2 separate regions of the Homo sapiens genome follow, and region 2 is linked to region 1. A link means that fine-mapping ties the variant in region 1 to the expression of a gene that starts in the linked region. Tissue or cell type: whole blood. Region 1 holds a variant in brackets; the other region holds the start of a gene. All regions are shown on one strand. Distances are from middle to middle. Region 1 overlaps LOC124903657 (a long non-coding RNA gene). Region 2 holds the start of ITPRIPL2 (ITPRIP like 2).

Evidence for each region. PIP is the estimated chance that this variant, and not a neighbour inherited with it, causes the effect.
Region 2: ITPRIPL2 starts here. The variant in region 1 is fine-mapped to the expression of ITPRIPL2 in whole blood (TOPMed, PIP above 0.99).

The regions. Positions count from the first base shown.
Region 1 is chr16:19,134,129-19,142,458 of GRCh38, forward strand. It overlaps LOC124903657 (a long non-coding RNA gene), which reads left to right. Exons shown (of 2, transcript XR_007065011.1): 2 at 1,426-2,256. Among named protein-coding and RNA genes, the nearest start is that of ITPRIPL2, 24 kb to the left of the region's middle. The variant C/A (reference allele first, on the strand shown) is at 4,546.
Region 2 is chr16:19,109,499-19,117,828 of GRCh38, forward strand. It overlaps ITPRIPL2 (ITPRIP like 2), which reads left to right and starts at 4,466. Exons shown (of 1, transcript NM_001034841.4): 1 at 4,466-8,330. The coding sequence starts at 4,964. The coding sequence ends at 6,571. RefSeq lists silencers at 4,468-4,567, 4,658-5,027.

The sequences.
Region 1 (8,330 bases):
CTAATTTTTAAAAATTTTTTGTAGAGATAGTGTCTCACTATGTTGCCCAGGCTGGTCTTGAACAACTAGCCTCAAATGATCTCCCATCTTTGGCCTCCCAAAGGGCTGGGATTACAGGTGTGAGCCACAGTGCCCAGACTCCAACTTTTTATTATTTATTTTTATTTTTTTGAGATGGAGTCTTGTTCTGTTGCCCGGACTGGAGTACAGTGGTGCGATCTCAGCTCACTGCAACCTCCGCCTCCTGGGTTCAAGCAATTCTCTTGCCTCAGCCTCTTGAGTAGCTGGGATTGCAGGTGCCCACCACCATGCCCAGCTAATTTTTATATTTTTAGTGGAGACAGAGTTTCACCATGTTGGCCAAGCTGGTCTCGAACTCCTGACCTCAAATGATCCACCTGCCTCGGCCTCCCAAAGTGCTGGGATTACAGATGTGAGCCACCACGCCCAGTCTCCAACTTCTTTTTGGTGTGTGAAAGAAACTTTTATCTTACTTAGCCCTGTTATTTTGTTATAAGGAGAGGGACCTAATCCTAATTCTAACTGATTTCAGCTGCTTATAAAACTGGGAAAATATCACATTCAAATCCAATTTTCTGTCTTTACTTGAAAAATAAGATCGGTCACACTGTGCCCATGTTCCCATGTGGCAGTGGCGAGGCAGGGGCTCAGGAGGGGCTGTCTGCTCCATCTCCAGTTCACATAGTCCTCATGAATCACAATCTATATGTGATATCCACCTGACTTGCTGGTTTATCTTGTCTGCCTGCCCCTGTAGGCATTTGAGTTTGTGACCCCTGACTCATTTTCTCTGAGCCTCAATTTCCTCACTGACAAAATAGGGCTAATTTTAGAGTCTCCTTGTTAGGCATTTTTTTCTTTTTTTGAGACAGAGTGTCACTCTGTCACCCAGGCTGGAGTGCAGTGGCACAGTCTCGGCTCACTGCAACCCCCACCTCCCAGGCTCAAGTGATCCTCCTACCTCAGCCTCCCGAGTAGCTGGGATTACAGGCACGCACGACCACACCTGGCTAATTTTTGTATTTTTAGTAGAGACGGGGTTTCACCACGTTGGCCAGGCTGGTCTCAAACTCCTGACCTCAAGTGATCTGCCTGCCTGGGCCTCCCAAAGTGCTGGGATTACAGGCATAGACCACCACGCTCGGCCTCCTTGTTAGGCTTTTGCGAAGATGAGATGAGTTGCTAGATGCAAAGTGATATTTACAAGTCTCAGGAGTGAGGGCCACTGCTATCATTGTTACTGTTATTATCATTATCACCATCATTACCAGTATGGAAAGGAATTTGCCTTTTTTGGTGGTTGATCCAAAATCAGAAGGAGAGAAAGCAGGGGAACAGCTCAGATGCTAGCAAGAGTTTCTAGAGTGTGTTCATGCCTGCGGATGACTTTTCTTTTCCGCCCAGGGACAGAGTTTCCGATGTTCATTTATTTAATCCCTCTTGGAAAGTGTTAGCAGCTCGTTGCATCTGTAAAGGATGGAGGTGCCTTTGATCACTTCAATCAACTCACAGCTTCTCCCTTCCCAAAGGCAAGAGGCACCCTTGGCTTCCTCCTGCAAGGGCTCTGGGTACAAGCCTGAGCTTGCTGCCACCGTTAGTCTCCCACTGTGCTGGGGCTGAGGGAGGGGGCTGCCGGGCCCACGGTGGAGTTTGGGGGGATTTCAGGTTAACCCACAGTATATGGGAGGGTGGGTTTCTTTTCCTTTGTGCCGTCATTTTTCCAAGGCGGCAATCAAAGGAGAGCAACCTGTGGTATAATTCAAGGCTGGCAAAGAGACAGACAAAGATGATGGCAGAGGTGCCTCCCCTGCAGCCTGTGGATCCATACTGCACTCACGTCCTCACTCTGAAGGTGGCCTCCTATGAACACCTGCAGCTCAGGCCCGGGAGTTCTTATCTGTTTGTGACAGGACATTCCACCCACATGTAGGACAAGGCAGACATTGCTGGAGTGTTTGAGCCGCAGGGAGCAGCGCTCAACCAACCATGGATGGGACTGGTGGATAATCGCCCAGCTCCCTTCCCTTTCCATGGGACAGCTCTGGGATGCATGCTTTGCCCTGGCCCCAGCAGAGCTGAACCTCAGTTGCCACCTGCCCCCCAGCCCCCTCCGTAGGAACATGCCTGGGGACACACCCTTCCTTGGCTGCCTTCCCGTTCCCATCCCTGTCTCTCACTGTCCCCTCCCTCCTGGTGTTTCCTGAATCACTGTGCAAATAAACTACTCACACCCCAGCTCCTGTTTCAGGGTCCACTTCTTGAGGGGTGTAAGCTAATCAGTCTGTGCAGTTTGGTTCTGGAGGTCACTGAAAAGACTCACTCCTCCCTCTTTCTACCCTGAAGACGGAAAGCTCCCTTTCCCCATCCAGATGTGAACTCTGACTGCAGTGAAGTGAGACCTTGGGTGGGGGGCAGGAGAGGGACCCAAGGGTTGACAAGAGTAAGGAATGGTAGAAGAAAGGGCTTGGGGTGCTCCAGTGTGCCCCGAGAACTGAGGAGGAGGCCCATGCCATACCCACAAACTTTTCATTAGTTAAGTGAAGTATGGATGGAATGATCTTTGGATGCCATTCGAGCCTGCTAGCCAAGTTGTTCCTGTCTGTACCACCCCACCCAGCCAGTGTACAGCAGGGAGTGGAGGTAGCAGTCATACAGTATGGTGGTTAGGAGCTCAAGCTCTGGGTTTAAATAAACCTGGGCTCAGCTGCTGGCTTTCCTACTCATAAGCTGTGTGATCTTTAGCAAGTCACTTAACCTCTCTGAGCCTCAGTTGATATTCCAGCAACACTGCAATGAGCCTTCCTGCACATGTGCCCTTGGGCAACAGGCAGGAGCTTCTCTAGGACATATCCCTGGTGACCAGACGTGCTGAGTCGTAGGGTCTGGACAACTTCTGCATTTATTCATGAGGGCTGGCGCGCTTGGCAGTGATTAAAAACGTGGACTCACATCAGCAAGCGGTGTGTGCTTCTCGGGTGCTCTGATACATCCCTTACAAACACAAACGGAATTACAGTATGCAATCAACTTGCTTTTTTTTTTTTCACCACGTATACGTATTGGAGATCTTTCCATATCTAGCCACCTCAATATGCCTCATTTTAAAAACCATTTTATTGAATCATAATTATAGAAAATTGCATAGCAGGATGAACTTTTACAGTGTGAAAAACACTTGAGTAATCAGTACTGAAATCCAAAACCAGAATGTTACCTCTATTCCAGAACCCCCCTGCTGGTCCCTCCCCTCCCTCAACCACAACGGATTTATAAATATGTACTCTTGGCGTATGTGTGTCTAGCTTCTTTGGCTAAGAACTAGTTTATGAGATTTATGGATGTTGTTGCATGTAGTGACATTTTGGCAATGCCTGGAGACATTTTTGGTTGCCCCGACTTGCAGAGGGAAGTGCTACTGGCATCTTGTGGGTGGAGGCTTCAAAACGTCCTCCACCCCCCACTCAGGACAGCCCCCACTACAAAAATAATCTGGCCCCCAAGTGTCAGTAGTGCCTAGCTTGGGAAATCCTGTTATACACTGTGTGAGGGACTTAGGGGTTTGTTCTAAGAGTACTGGAGAAACCACGGCCTTTGTTCAGCTTTTAAATACTGCAAACTATTTTCCAAAGTGGCTGTGTCCTCTTTCTTTGTGAATACCTGCATTCTTTCCCATCATGTGGGTGTATCATTTTACCAGTTCCCATCCATTAATTTTATATTGTTTCCAGTCTTTTGGCCATTACACCAGTGCCAAAATGAGAATCCTTGTAACAGTCTATAGCAGGCTTGTCCAACCCACAGCCTGTGGGCTGCATGCAGCCCAGGATGGTTTTGAATGTGGCCCAACACAAATTTGTAAACTTTCTTAAAACATTATGAGATATATTTATTTATTTATTTTTAGCTCATCAGCTTTCATTAGTATTTGTGTATTTTATGTGTGGCCCAAGACAATTCTTCTTCCAGTGTGGCCCAGGGAAGCCAAAAGATTGAACACCCATGGTCTACAGTATTTGGAAAGAATATCAGCCAGGCGCAGTGGCTCAGGCCTGTATCCTAGCACTTTGGGAGGCCGAGGCAGGCAGATCACTTGAGGTCAGGAGTTTGAGACCAGCCTGGCCAACATGGTGAACCCCCATCTCTACTAAAAGCACAAAAATTTGCTGGGCATGGTGGCATTTGCCTGTAATCCCAGCTACTTGGGAGGCTGAGGCAGAAGAATCGTTTGAACCCGGGAGGCGGAGGTTGTGGTGAGCCAAGATTGTGCCATGGCACTCTAGCCTGGGCCACAGAGTGAGACTCCATCTCAAAAAAAAAAAAAAAGAAAAAGAATATCATATTTGGATATAAGTGTATGCACGTGTGTGTGCACACACACACACACACACACACACCCCATTTTCTGGAGACCCCAGACAATGGGACACGACTAAATTTGATTTACATGTAAACTTCCTTCATTCCCTGCATGTTTAATATTGAACTTGCTTGCAGAAATAGCTCTCATCATCTTGGCTTCTGCCC[C/A]GGCTTCACATCTCGTGCATGTGGACACACGATCTGGAAAGATAAACAGGAAATCCCTCCCGGCATGGGAAAATGGAGGAGGCCTCTGTTCCTCTGAGAGCTGGGACTCAAAAAAGCTAAGTGTCAGCCTGGTTGGGGCCAAGGGGACTCCCTGCCTGCAAACAGGACTGGGCAGCTCTGGGGAAGATGTTGCAATTTTTTTTTCCTCTAAATGCTTCATGTGAACTAATTCCACTTTGAAATTAATCTCTGGCATCTAGTTGCCTTCTATTTTTTTCTTTAAAACAATATTTTAACCTAAATTTATAGATCTGGACCTGCCTCTGTGCCTTTTATCTTTGTCTAAAATTCAAGTAATGGGTAATACTTTGATTTCAAATGCATTAAACTATAACCACATAATATGTATTGATCATTTTTAACCTCGCCTGTTTTTCAAGCAGCTAGATTTAACAATTTCTCTAAAGTTAACTCTAAATGTTACAGGAACAGTAAAGTCAATAGAACAGAAATTTAAAAATACATATCATATAAAGGAAGGCTAAACCCAGATTCATGCAGTTACTCTTAATAAGAATTAGATTTAGCTCTGAGCTTTCTGGCAAAGCAATAAGGAAAACGCAATGCATCACCCAATATCTTGTTTTCTTGTCAAAGGAAAACTGCACATCTTTAGCTGAGATAATTATTTTCTTGATCTTAAGTTCTGAAATCAGCAGATGTGAACATTTAAAATTTATCCTTCCGGTCTATGTTTTCATCTCTGCTCTTCTTACTTACCCTGGATGGAATATAGGTGCCATGTTGTCACCCCTGTACTGAATTGATAGCTGCCTGGTTGACCGCTTTCTATGTGCCTGGCACTAGGCTGTGTGCTTTACCCTTGGAATATCAACTGTTATTATCCCACGTTACTGCTACAGGAATCGAGGTTCAGAGAGGTTAAGTAACAGCCTCCAACTCATACTTGGCAAGTACTGGAGTTGACAGGTAGGCAGGGCAGGGATTTTTGTCCTCTGAGAAAGAAAATAACTTGTCCAACTTCACACAGCTGGAAAACGCCAAAGCTGGGATTCAAACTAGAGAATTTAGAGATCTTACATGTCTTTAGTACCTACTAAATGCCAGGACACTTTGAGGAATGATGAGGAAGTGTAGGTCAAGGTTAAGAGAGTAGCTGACAGATCTGGGCTCAGTTCTGCCTCTTAATTGACCCTGGGCAATTTCTTAATGCCTCTGAACCTCAGTTTATTCACCTGCAAAATGGGTAGATTATAGCCTAACCTCAGAGGGTGTTATGGGAATTCGGTGAGTTGATGCCTGGGGAGGATTTAGCACAGAGCCTAATGAGGAGGGTGCCCATCAATGTCAGCTCCCATCAATGTCAACATCTTGCTGGTCAATATCAGCAAGAATCCTCGATGAGGCAAAAATCACCAGCTCTGTGCTTCAGGTGGAATCTATTTCTCTTTCTTCTCCTTTCTTCTTTCTTCTCCCCAGCCCTGCACTCCCCCAGCTCTCTGATCATCCTGAAGGGCTGAAGAAAACAACCAGGGAAAAGCTGGAGTTTAATAAATAAGCTCCCTTCGAAATGACCAGAGGGCCCCAGGCATGAGCTGTCTGCAGTGGTTTTCACAGCAAGCTTCACAGCAATACCTTAGGTTTTTATTTATATTACATTTCCCTGTTTACAAAGCCCTCATCTGCCTGCCAGTTACCTCCCTGAACTTCTCCTGCAGTTCTGAGAGGGGGTAGGGATTTCCATTCCCATTGAAAGGAGGCCCAGAGAGGTTAGTGACTTCCCCCAAAGTCACCCAGCAGAGCAGAACTCACATCTTCTGCCTCTAAGTTCAGAGATTTCTTCATAGCATCCTGCTGCAGGACAGCAGTTAATGAAACCGTTTCCGGAAATAATTAAGAGTTAGAGCTGGGAAAAACATATTTTGAATTGGCCAAGAGGGAATTGAAAAACTGCACATGTCAAATCTCTGTTTTTTTCTCCTGATGTGGCTTTTTGCCCCTCATCCCCTGTTCCTTTTGTCCCATGTTTCTCTGACTGCCTTCACTCTCTCACACATAAGCAAAGCAGCAGACTGGTTCATTCATTCATTCATTCATTCATTCACTGTTATGGACTGAATTACATTCCCTAAAATTTCTATGTTGATATTTTAAACCCCAATGTCTCAGAATTGTGACTGTATTTGGAGATAGAACATTTAAGAGGTAATTAATGTAAAATGAGGTCACATGGTTGGGCCCTAATCCAATATGACTGGTGTCCTCATAAGAATAGACTAGGACTCAGACAGTACAGGAGCAAGGGACGACCATGTGAGGACACAGCGGGACGGTGGCCACCTGCAAGCCCCAGAGAGAGACCTCAGGAGAAACCAAACCTGCCGACACCTTGATCTCAGACTTCCAGCCTCCAGAGCTATGAGAAATAAGTGTCTTCTGGGTAAGGCACCCAGGCTGTGATATTTACTTACGGCTGCCAGGACACTTCTTATTCCTTCGGATATACTTTTATACACATCTCACTTCCTGAAGATCTTGGCTGAACTGTCACCCAGCGAGGCTTCCCTGACACCTTCTTTAAAATTGCAATCACACTGCCCACCTTGTTTCATACTCCCAAATTTCCTCATCTGCTTCATTTTTCTCGTAGTACTGATCACTATCTGAATACCCATATATTTGCTTATATATATACATATATATACCCACACACATATATATATACACATATATATATATATATATTTTTTTTTTTTTGGAGACAGAGTTTTGCTCTGTCACCCAGGCTGGAGTGCAGTGGTGCGATCTTGGCTCACCGCAAGCTCTGCCTCCTGGGTTCAAGTGATTCTCCTGCCCCAGCATCCTGAATAGCTGGGACTACAGGCGCCTGCCACCACGCCCAGCTGATTTTTGTATTTTTTAGTAGAGACAGGGTTTTGCCAAGTTGGAGAGCCTGGTCTCAACTCCTGACCTCAGGTGATCCGCCTGCCTCAGCCTCCCAAAGTGCTGGGATTACAGGCGTGAGCCACCACACCCAGCCACTTTTTTGTGTTTTCATTTCCCCTGCCCCAACACTGGTAGATAATTATAATGAGGGCAGGGAGTGTCTGTCTGTTTTGTTCACTGTAATTAACGTACAGTGTTTGCATCTGTAGTGTCTAGAACAAGGTCTTGCTCACAGTAGGTAATTAATTAAGTGTACCTTGAATGAATGAAGTCGTGCACCCACTCATTCAAGCAACAAACAGTAATGGTGCTGTGGCTTAGTGCCAGGCACTACGCCGGGGGCTGGGATATACCTGGAGACTCATACTGGACTGGGAGATGCTAGATACCAGCGCCCACATCATACTCATGCTTGCAACTTCTGTGTCTATTCCAGGCTTGGCCTAGGGATTGCTGTAGTTTTTCCTTGGCCTAGGGACTGCTGTATTTTTTTTTTCTGACAACCCTACACACGGATTTGCTTCACTTATGCAACCTTCAGAGTAGATACCTGGAAAACATTCGCACTGATTTTTAAACAACTTTTAATTTTTTTTGAGACAGAGTCTCGCTGTGTTGCCCAGGCAGGAGTGCAGTGGCGTCGTCTTGGCTCACTGCAGCCTCCACCTCCCAGGTTCAAGCAATTCTCCTGCCTCAGCCTCCTGAGTAGCTGGGACCACAGACATGTGCCACCATGCCTGGGTAATTTTTGTATTTTTAGTAGAGATGGCGTTTCACCATGTTGGCCAAACTGGTCTTGAACTCCTGACCTCAGGTGA
Region 2 (8,330 bases), 25 kb before region 1:
GCTCACAGCAGCCTCGACATCTTAGACTCAAATGATCCTCCTGTCTTAGCTTCCTGAGTAGCTGGGACTACAGGTGTGCACCAACACACCCAGCTAGTTTTTTTGTTTTGTTTTGTTTTTTTCTAGAGACAGGGTCTCACTGTGTTGCCTAGGCTGGTCTTGAACTCCTGGGCTCAAGCAATCCTCCTGCCTTGGCCTCCCAAAGTGCTGGGATTACAGGCATGAACCGTTGTGCCCAGCAGGTTTTTATATTTTTAAACGGTTGAAAAAAATCAAAAGAAGTGTATTTCATGGCACACGAAAATCTTACAAAATTCAAATTTCAGCATCCATAAATAAATTTGATGGGAACAGCCCTATCCACTCACTGACAGATCATCTCTAGCTGCTGTAGTGGGTTGATTGTGTCTCCCTAAAAGGTAAGTTCAAATCCTAACTCCTGGACATGTGCAGGTGACCTTATTTGGGTCTTTGTAGAGGTCATCAAGTTAAGATGGATTAGGGTGGGCCCTAAATTCAATGAATAGTGTCCTTATATGAAAAAGGAGGGGAAGATTTGGATACAAAGACCTAGAAATATGCACAGGGAAGAAGGCCAAATAAAGACAGAGGTAGCTGGGTCCAGTGGCTTACTTCTGTAATCCCAGCACTTCGGGAGGCCGAGGCGGGTGGATCACCTGTGGTCGTGAGTTCAAGACTGGCCTGACTAACCTGGAGAAACCCCATCTCTACTAAAAATACAACATTAGCTGGGCGTGGTGGCACATGCCTGTAATCCCAGCTACTCGGGAAGCTGAGGCAGGAGAATCGCTTGAACTTGGGAGGCGGAGCTTGCGGTGAGCCGAGATCATGCCATTGCACTCCAGCCTGGGCAACATGAGCAAAACTACGTCTCAAAAAAAAAAAAAAAAAAAAAAAAAAAAAGACAGAGGTAGAGGAATGCAGCTATTAGTAACAAAAGTCATGGCAAAAACCGCAATTATTTTTGCACCAACCTAATGCAAGCCGAAGTTTGCCAAGCAACAGCCCCAAACCCAGCTATTTGGGGCTACAGCAGTGGACCTGAGTAGTTATAGTAGAGATTTTATGACACCCAAGCCTAAAATATTTACTCTGTGGCCCTTTACAAAAAGTGTGAGCCAGGCCAGGCACGGTGGCTCATGCCTGTAATCCCAGCACTTTGGGAAGCCAAGGCAGGAGGATCGCTTGAGGCCAGGAGTTCAAGACCAGCCTGGGCAACATAGTGAGACCCCATGTCTACAAAAAATTTAAAAATTAGCTAGGTGTGGTGGTGCATGCCTGTAATTCCAACTACTTGGAAGGCTGAGGCAGGAGGATCCCTTGAACCCAGAAACTCAAGGCTGCAGTGAGCTGTGATTGTGCTACTGTGCTCCAGGCTAGGCAACAGAGCAAGACCTATTTCTTTAAAAAAAAAAAAAATAGTGTTTGCTAACTCTGACCTAGAGCATTGCCATTATTTGTATAGTTGGAGATAGCATACCACTATATCTGCCAGGGGAAAAATAAACCACTCTGTTGGTAGCACTCCATTTTATAGATCGGGAGATAGAAGCAAAGATAGGTTAAGAGAGTTATCCAAAAGAGGTGGCCAGCTGTCATCTCTGCATGTCAAAACATCTCATCCATCTTTTTCCAGCCGCAGCAACATGACTTTCCTTGGGGGAGAGACACCCCTTCCCACAGTTCCCACAGTTTGAACAGGGCTGACTCCACCTCTTGGTTCCAGGGCTGGGTACCCAACTGTATTAGTCAGCTCAGGCTGCCTCTACAAATACCATAGATTGGGTGGCTCCAACAACAGAAATTTATTTTCTCATAGCTCTGGAGGTTAGAAAGTCCAAAATCAAGGTCTGGTAGCATTCCGCTTCTGGTGAGGGCTTTTCTCCAGGCTTGCAGATGGTCTTTCTTTGGTCCAACCACATGGAGAGAGAGCCGTCTCTCTTTCTTCCTCTTATAAGGTCACCAATCCTATCAGATTAGGACCCTATCTTTCTGACCTCATTTAACCTAAATTACTGCCGAAAAGCCCTATCTCCAAATACAGTCACATTGGCCGTTAAGGTTTCAACATAGATTTGGATTGGAGTTGGTGGGGGCACTACCTGGGCAATGCTAATCAGTGCATTCCCTTGCTTGGTGACTTTAGCATATGACCCAAAACTATCCCAAGTCATGGCATTTACCACAACTTTGAGAAAAGCAAGCCTCTCTGGCCAGGCGCGGTGGCTCACGCCTGTAATCCCAGCACTTTGGGAGGCTGAGGTGGGCAGATCACCTGAGGTCAGGAGTTCAAGACCAGCCTGGACAACATGGTGAAACCCCATCTCTACTAAAAATACAAAAATTAGCCAGGCGTGGTGGCGCATGCCTGTAATCCCAGCTACTCAGGAGGCTGAGGCATGAGAATCACTTGAACCCAGGAGGTGGAGGTTGCAGTGAGCTGAGATCGTGCCACTGCACTCCAGCCTGGGCAACAGAGTGAGACTCTGTCTTTAAAACAAACAAACAACAAACAAACAAACAAACAAAAACAGGAAAGGCTCTCTTTTCTTCTGCACTGAAGACAATGTGAGACTACAGCAGCCAAGGGCATATGGAGGACCTGTGGGGAGGACAGCCCACTTAAAAAGCAGAGAGCTAAGAAGTGAAGGGAGAACAGGTCTGCATAGCATTGAGGCACCTAGATTCAGCTGTACCTGAAATCCCCTCATGGATCTCAGTTAACATGATACAATAATGTGTGTGTGTGTGTGTGTCTATGCGTGCGTGCACTTAAGCCAGTTGGAGCTGTGTTTCTGTCACTTGCAAACCTAAGAATCTTGACTGGTAGATGATGATCTCATAGCTAATATTAGTAGATGGGATCTGAAGGCAGATCTGCTTAGCTCTCAGGGGCCCAATTTAGGATTTACTGGGAACAACCCAGAAGCCATCTTTTGAGTCCTGGTTCCCAGGTGGCAGCTGGGTTCTAACATGTTTTAATATATTCACCCTTGCTCTCTTTAAAGGTCAGTGCCAGCAAAGAAGGTGTAATGAGTGTGAATAAAGAAAGACAATTATTTAAATAGATCAGATTATTTCAGGAAGTGCTCCCTGTTATGAAACAAAACAAGCTTCCTAGGACTGAGGTTCCAATGTAGACCCAGACAAAGGACCCCCAAAATTCCCAGCAGATGAGGAAGAGACCTTCCCTGGGCCCCCTCCTGGGAGTTCCACCCCTTGGTTTCTGCCCAGCTCTACAAAGGCTGTGTAACCTTGTGGGGGAGGGGGGAAGGGGGGCAGCTGAACCTGCCTGAGCTGAACCTGTTTGTGCCCCTTTCCTCCACTGGGAAAATAATTTTATTTTAATTTCATTTCATTTTATTTATTTTATTTTTTCAGAGACAAGAGTCTTGCTCTGTCACTCAGGCTGGAGTGCAATGATGCTATCATAGCTCACTGCAGCCTCGAATTCCTGGCCTCACTCAAGCGATCTTCTCGCCGCCTCGGCTTCCCAAAGTGCTGGGATTACAGGGGTGAACCAGCATGTTCCGATGAAGTCTCAGGCCAAATGTCACCCCTGTCATCCTCTGGTTTCCACAGGGTAGCCAGCACCTTCTCACTCCCTCGGGCACTTTTGTTTATTTTAGAGCGTTTTCTTGCTGTGGAATCCTTCCCCCCACTTTTTTTTTTTTTTTTTTTTTTTTTGAGACGGAGTCTCACTCTGTCACCCAGGCTGGAGTACAGTGGCGCGATCTCGGCTCACGGCAGCCTCCGCCTCCCGGATTCAAGCGATTCTCCTGCCTGAACCTCCCGAACAGCTGGGATTACAGGCGCGTGCCACTACGCCTGGCTAATTTTTGTATTTTTAGTAGAGATGGGGGGCGGGGGGGGGGGTCTCACCATGTTGGCCAGGCTAGTCTCGAACTACTGACCTTAAATGATCCGCCCACTTCGGCCTCTCAAAGTGCTGGGATTACAGGCGTGAGACACTGCGCCCAGCCCCTTCCTTTTTTGATTCCCATTTTTACAAGGCTGTAAGCTTCACGAAGGACAGAAACCTTGTCCATCTTGTCAACTATGATTTCCCCAGCACTGTGGCTCCGACCTGGCACATGGTAGGTGCTCGGTGAATACTGGTTTGAACAGACGACTGCGGCAGACGGCAAGGGCCACTCCTGTGCCAGGGCCTGCCACGCCACCGCAGCTTGTGCGGTGGGGGTGGGGAGGACTGGACAGTCTGGCTGTGCGCCCTTTTCTCCTTTTCAACGTCCCAGTATAACTTCAAGGGAGCGCAACTCCAGAGGCTCCCTGGACGAAGCTACCGCCCCGGAATCAGGGCCTTCCCAATTCTGCCTTCGGGGAGGGAGGATGGGGGTGGGCCGCGGGAGGCCAGTTCCAAGAGCGTCCTGAAGTCCCTCCCGCCGCCCCGCGTCGCTTTAAGGCGGAGGCCCGGGAGGGGGCCGACCCGGCTCGCCAGCTCCACGCTCGGCTCCAGACTCCGGCATTTCCTCCCCGCTAGCTGGCGCGGCCTCGCCTCCCCCTCGGAAGAGGAAACTCCCGGGGTCCGAGTAACAGGGTCAGGCGCGGAGAGGAGCGGCGGGAGAGCCAGGAGGGCCGCCCAGGGTAGGAGGCGAGCCAGGCCGGGCCAGAAGCTGGCCGACGGCGGCGCGCGGGGGCGCCGGGCGGGGAGGGCCGCTGGGCCGGACTCAGCGCGCAGCCGGGGCAGGGCGCGGCCCGGGGCCCGAGAGCGCAGGGCGGGCCGCAGCTGGAAGGAACACTTGAGCTGGGAGAGGAGGCCGAGCTGGAGGGCGGCCTCCCTCGGGCCTGCGTTCGGGAAGCCGCCGCGGAGGAGGAGACGGGGACAGCGGGGCTGCCCGGGCGCTGTGCGCATGCTGGGCTTGGGTCGCCGCCGGGGCTTGCCCCCTGGGCTGCTCGGCCACCGCCGCCCCGGGCGCCCGGCATGTCGGTGCACTACACCCTCAATCTACGCGTCTTCTGGCCCCTGGTGACCGGCCTGTGCACCGCCCTGGTGTGCCTCTACCATGTCCTGCGGGGAAGCGGGGGCGCCCGGGCCGAGCCCGCCGACGGCGTGGATGGCGGCTTCCCGTTGCTTAAGGTGGCCGTCCTGCTCCTCCTCAGCTATGTCCTCCTGCGCTGTCGCCACGCTGTCCGGCAGCGCTTCCTGCCCGGGTCTCCCCGTCTGGAGGGTCACGCCGCCTTCTCCTCGAGACACTTCCGAGAGCCGGGCCTCAGCATCCTGCTGGAGAGTTACTACGAGCATGAGGTGCGCCTGTCTCCGCACGTGTTGGGCCACAGCAAGGCGCACGTGAGCCGGATCGTGGGCGAGCTGGTGCGGGCTGGCCGCGCCCGGGGGTCCCCCGGTCTCATTCCTGGGGGAGCGCTGGCCTTGGCCTTCCGCGGAGACTTCATCCAGGTGGGCAGCGCCTACGAGCAACATAAAATCCGCCGGCCCGACAGCTTCGACGTGCTGGTGCCACTGCGCCTCCCGCCGCTTGTGGCGCTGGAGCCACGGAGCCTGGGCGAGGAGCCAGCGCTGGCCCCGGCCTTCCGCGGCTGCTTCTTGTGCGCCCTCAAGGCACCACCCTCACCATCGGGGGCCTCGGGGGGCCACTGGCTTCGGGACTGCAAACCCTTTGCTGATGCCTTCTGCGTGGATGTGCGCGGGCGGCGTCACCTCTCTGCTACTCTGGTGCTGCGCTGGTTCCAGTCGCATCTGCAGCGCTCCTTGGCCACTGTGCGTTACAGCCTGGAGGGGCGCTGTCGGGTCACCTTGACCCCAGGTGGCCTGGAACAGCCCCCCACCTTACACATCTTGCCCTGCCGCACTGACTACGGCTGCTGCCGCCTTTCTATGGCTGTGCGTCTCATCCCCGCTGTCCATCTGGGAGATGGGGTCTTCCTTGTGGCGCCACCACCGCCACCCTTGCCCAGCGCGCCCCTGTTGGAGCTCCCTGAGGGCCTGCGTGCGGAGGCACTGTGGGGTGTGAACACAGCACGCCAGGAGCAGAAGCTGCTGAGTTGGCTGCAGGAACGGGCAGCTCCAGGTGCCTGCTACCTCAAGTGCCTGCAGTTGCTTAAGGCTCTGCGCGATCTGGGGGCCCGTGGGCTGGACTCAGCGGCCGCCACCCAGTGGGGACGCATCCTATCCTCATATGTGCTCAAGACAGTGCTGCTGGCAGTGCTGCTGCGCAAGGGGGCCCCTGGGCAAGGCTGGGACGAGGAGCACCTGGGAAGGTGTTTGGAGGAGTTGGTGCAGTTCCTTAGGGACTGCCTGCTGCGACGCCATACGCTCTTCCACTGCGTCCTGGGCCCTGGTGGGGCGGCTGCCGAGGTGGGTCCCCTGCCCAAGGCACTGAGGGAAGCCGCCCCAGTTGACCTCCTGGCCGCTTTCGACGGGCACGCCCGGGAACTTGCAGCAGCGCGGTTGCTGTCCACGTGGCAAAGGCTGCCCCAGCTTCTCCGGGCCTACGGGGGTCCCCGCTACCTTGCCAGGTGCCCCCCACCCCGGAGTCAGCGCACCCAGGGCTTCCTTGAAGGTGAACCGTAAACCCTGACAGCACCCCCACCTGACCAAATGCTCCTAAAGCCTTTCCCACTGGGTGGGGGTGGGAATGGCGGTGAAGCCAGTTAAATGCAAGATTGCAGAAGGCATTGGAAAATTTGGTGGCTGCCACAAGCTTTAGTGGCTTAAATATCACCTTCTCGCTTCACAGTCCAGTATAATATGACATCTTCACACCCACTAGAGTGTCCTGGGCAAACCATGGGAAGACATCCAACAGGAGACCCAAGAATTGGTTCAAATATTGTTCTGTGTAGACGGATTCTGTAGAAGGATGTGGCTTTTAGAGAAGTCCAGTAGAAGAAGCAAGAACTAGCTGCAGGGAAAGTTCCTTCTGTCGGTTTTTAGACACAGATCTCTCTGCCCAAATTAAAAAAAAACAAAACAAAACACTAAAGTTTTTGACACAATTACTTGCTAGGTACTGGGTTCCTGATTGTCTTTAAAAAGAAAAATCTGAATCTTTATTTGCAACTGGAATTGAAGTTCTATTTTAGGGGCTAATGTTTAGAGGAACATAATTTCCACTGTTCAAATTAATATTAATGTATTTTTAAAATGGTGCAATCACAGGTGTTTGACAAGATTGTCAACAAGTTAAGTCACATAGATGGAAAGGCAATCGAGAGTTGGTTAGAGAAGCTTCCAGAGAAAATAGCACTTTATATTGATCAATTCACTCATTTTGTGGTAATTGCTAGCACCAAGCATTGCATCTGAAAGGGAAGCCAGTTATATTTATTATTAAATGTACAACCTTGAAAAGCAGCCAGCATGCTTGCCTAACTAACATCGCCGCAGGCCACAAGCTGGGATATGTACCTGTCCGTCAACATCCATTCATTAAACTACCTACTACCAGCCAGAGATGTCTGGAACCAAAGTAGCAACCAAATACATATTCAAGACAACACTGGTGAAGGCATAAAACATGTTGGCTTTGGAGAAAGATGTGTTTTAGGCTTTGCCTGTAAAGGTGTTTCTCCAAGGCTGGCTGCTGGCTGGAGACAGAAAACTTTTTTGTTTTAAGGTTTTTAGCAAACTCCTTCACAAAGAGATTTCTTTCTGAGCTTAATGAGCTAATGAAGAGGAAATGCCTGCTGCTTAGCATGTGGTTTGTGCTGGGTCTCTAACCATTGATGGTTCTTCCTTGTCCAGGCAGTCTTACGTGGTCCAAGAGACCTGTTGATTCAGCACAGGTCTTGCAAAACATTTCACTTATAGTTCAGTATCTTGGGCTCTGTGCTTGAAGATCAGTTACTCCCTGGTCGTGGGCAGAGGAGACAAATTAGGAAAAGAGCAAGGGAGACAGCCCTTGACGGCAGTCTGTCTCTTTTCTCTTTAGGTGTCAGTATCACCAGGTTGGGTGTATTTTGCAGCTGGGAGGAGCCGGTCCTGGAATTCTTCCTTGTTCTCCCAAATTTATAACAGTCCTCAATTGCAGTTTAAGTTCAGCATGGCCCCTCATCTGCTTGCCTGATTGGAAATGCAGCCAGTCCAAGTGTTACAAATTGGGATTTTTTTGTTTTCTAAATAAAAACATGTACTTCCTCAGACTCTTAAAGCTAAAATTTGGAAGACAGAAATGCCTATGTGAATAGAATCATTGTTGAAGTTCTGAGCTCTTTTGAGGGAACTCTATAAGCCTTCTTTCTTTAGGGGATCCACTTGCCTGCTGTGGGAAATCATAGTGAGTGATTTACAGGAATCCTTCTCCTCCAAGCTGCATTGGCTTCTTATATCC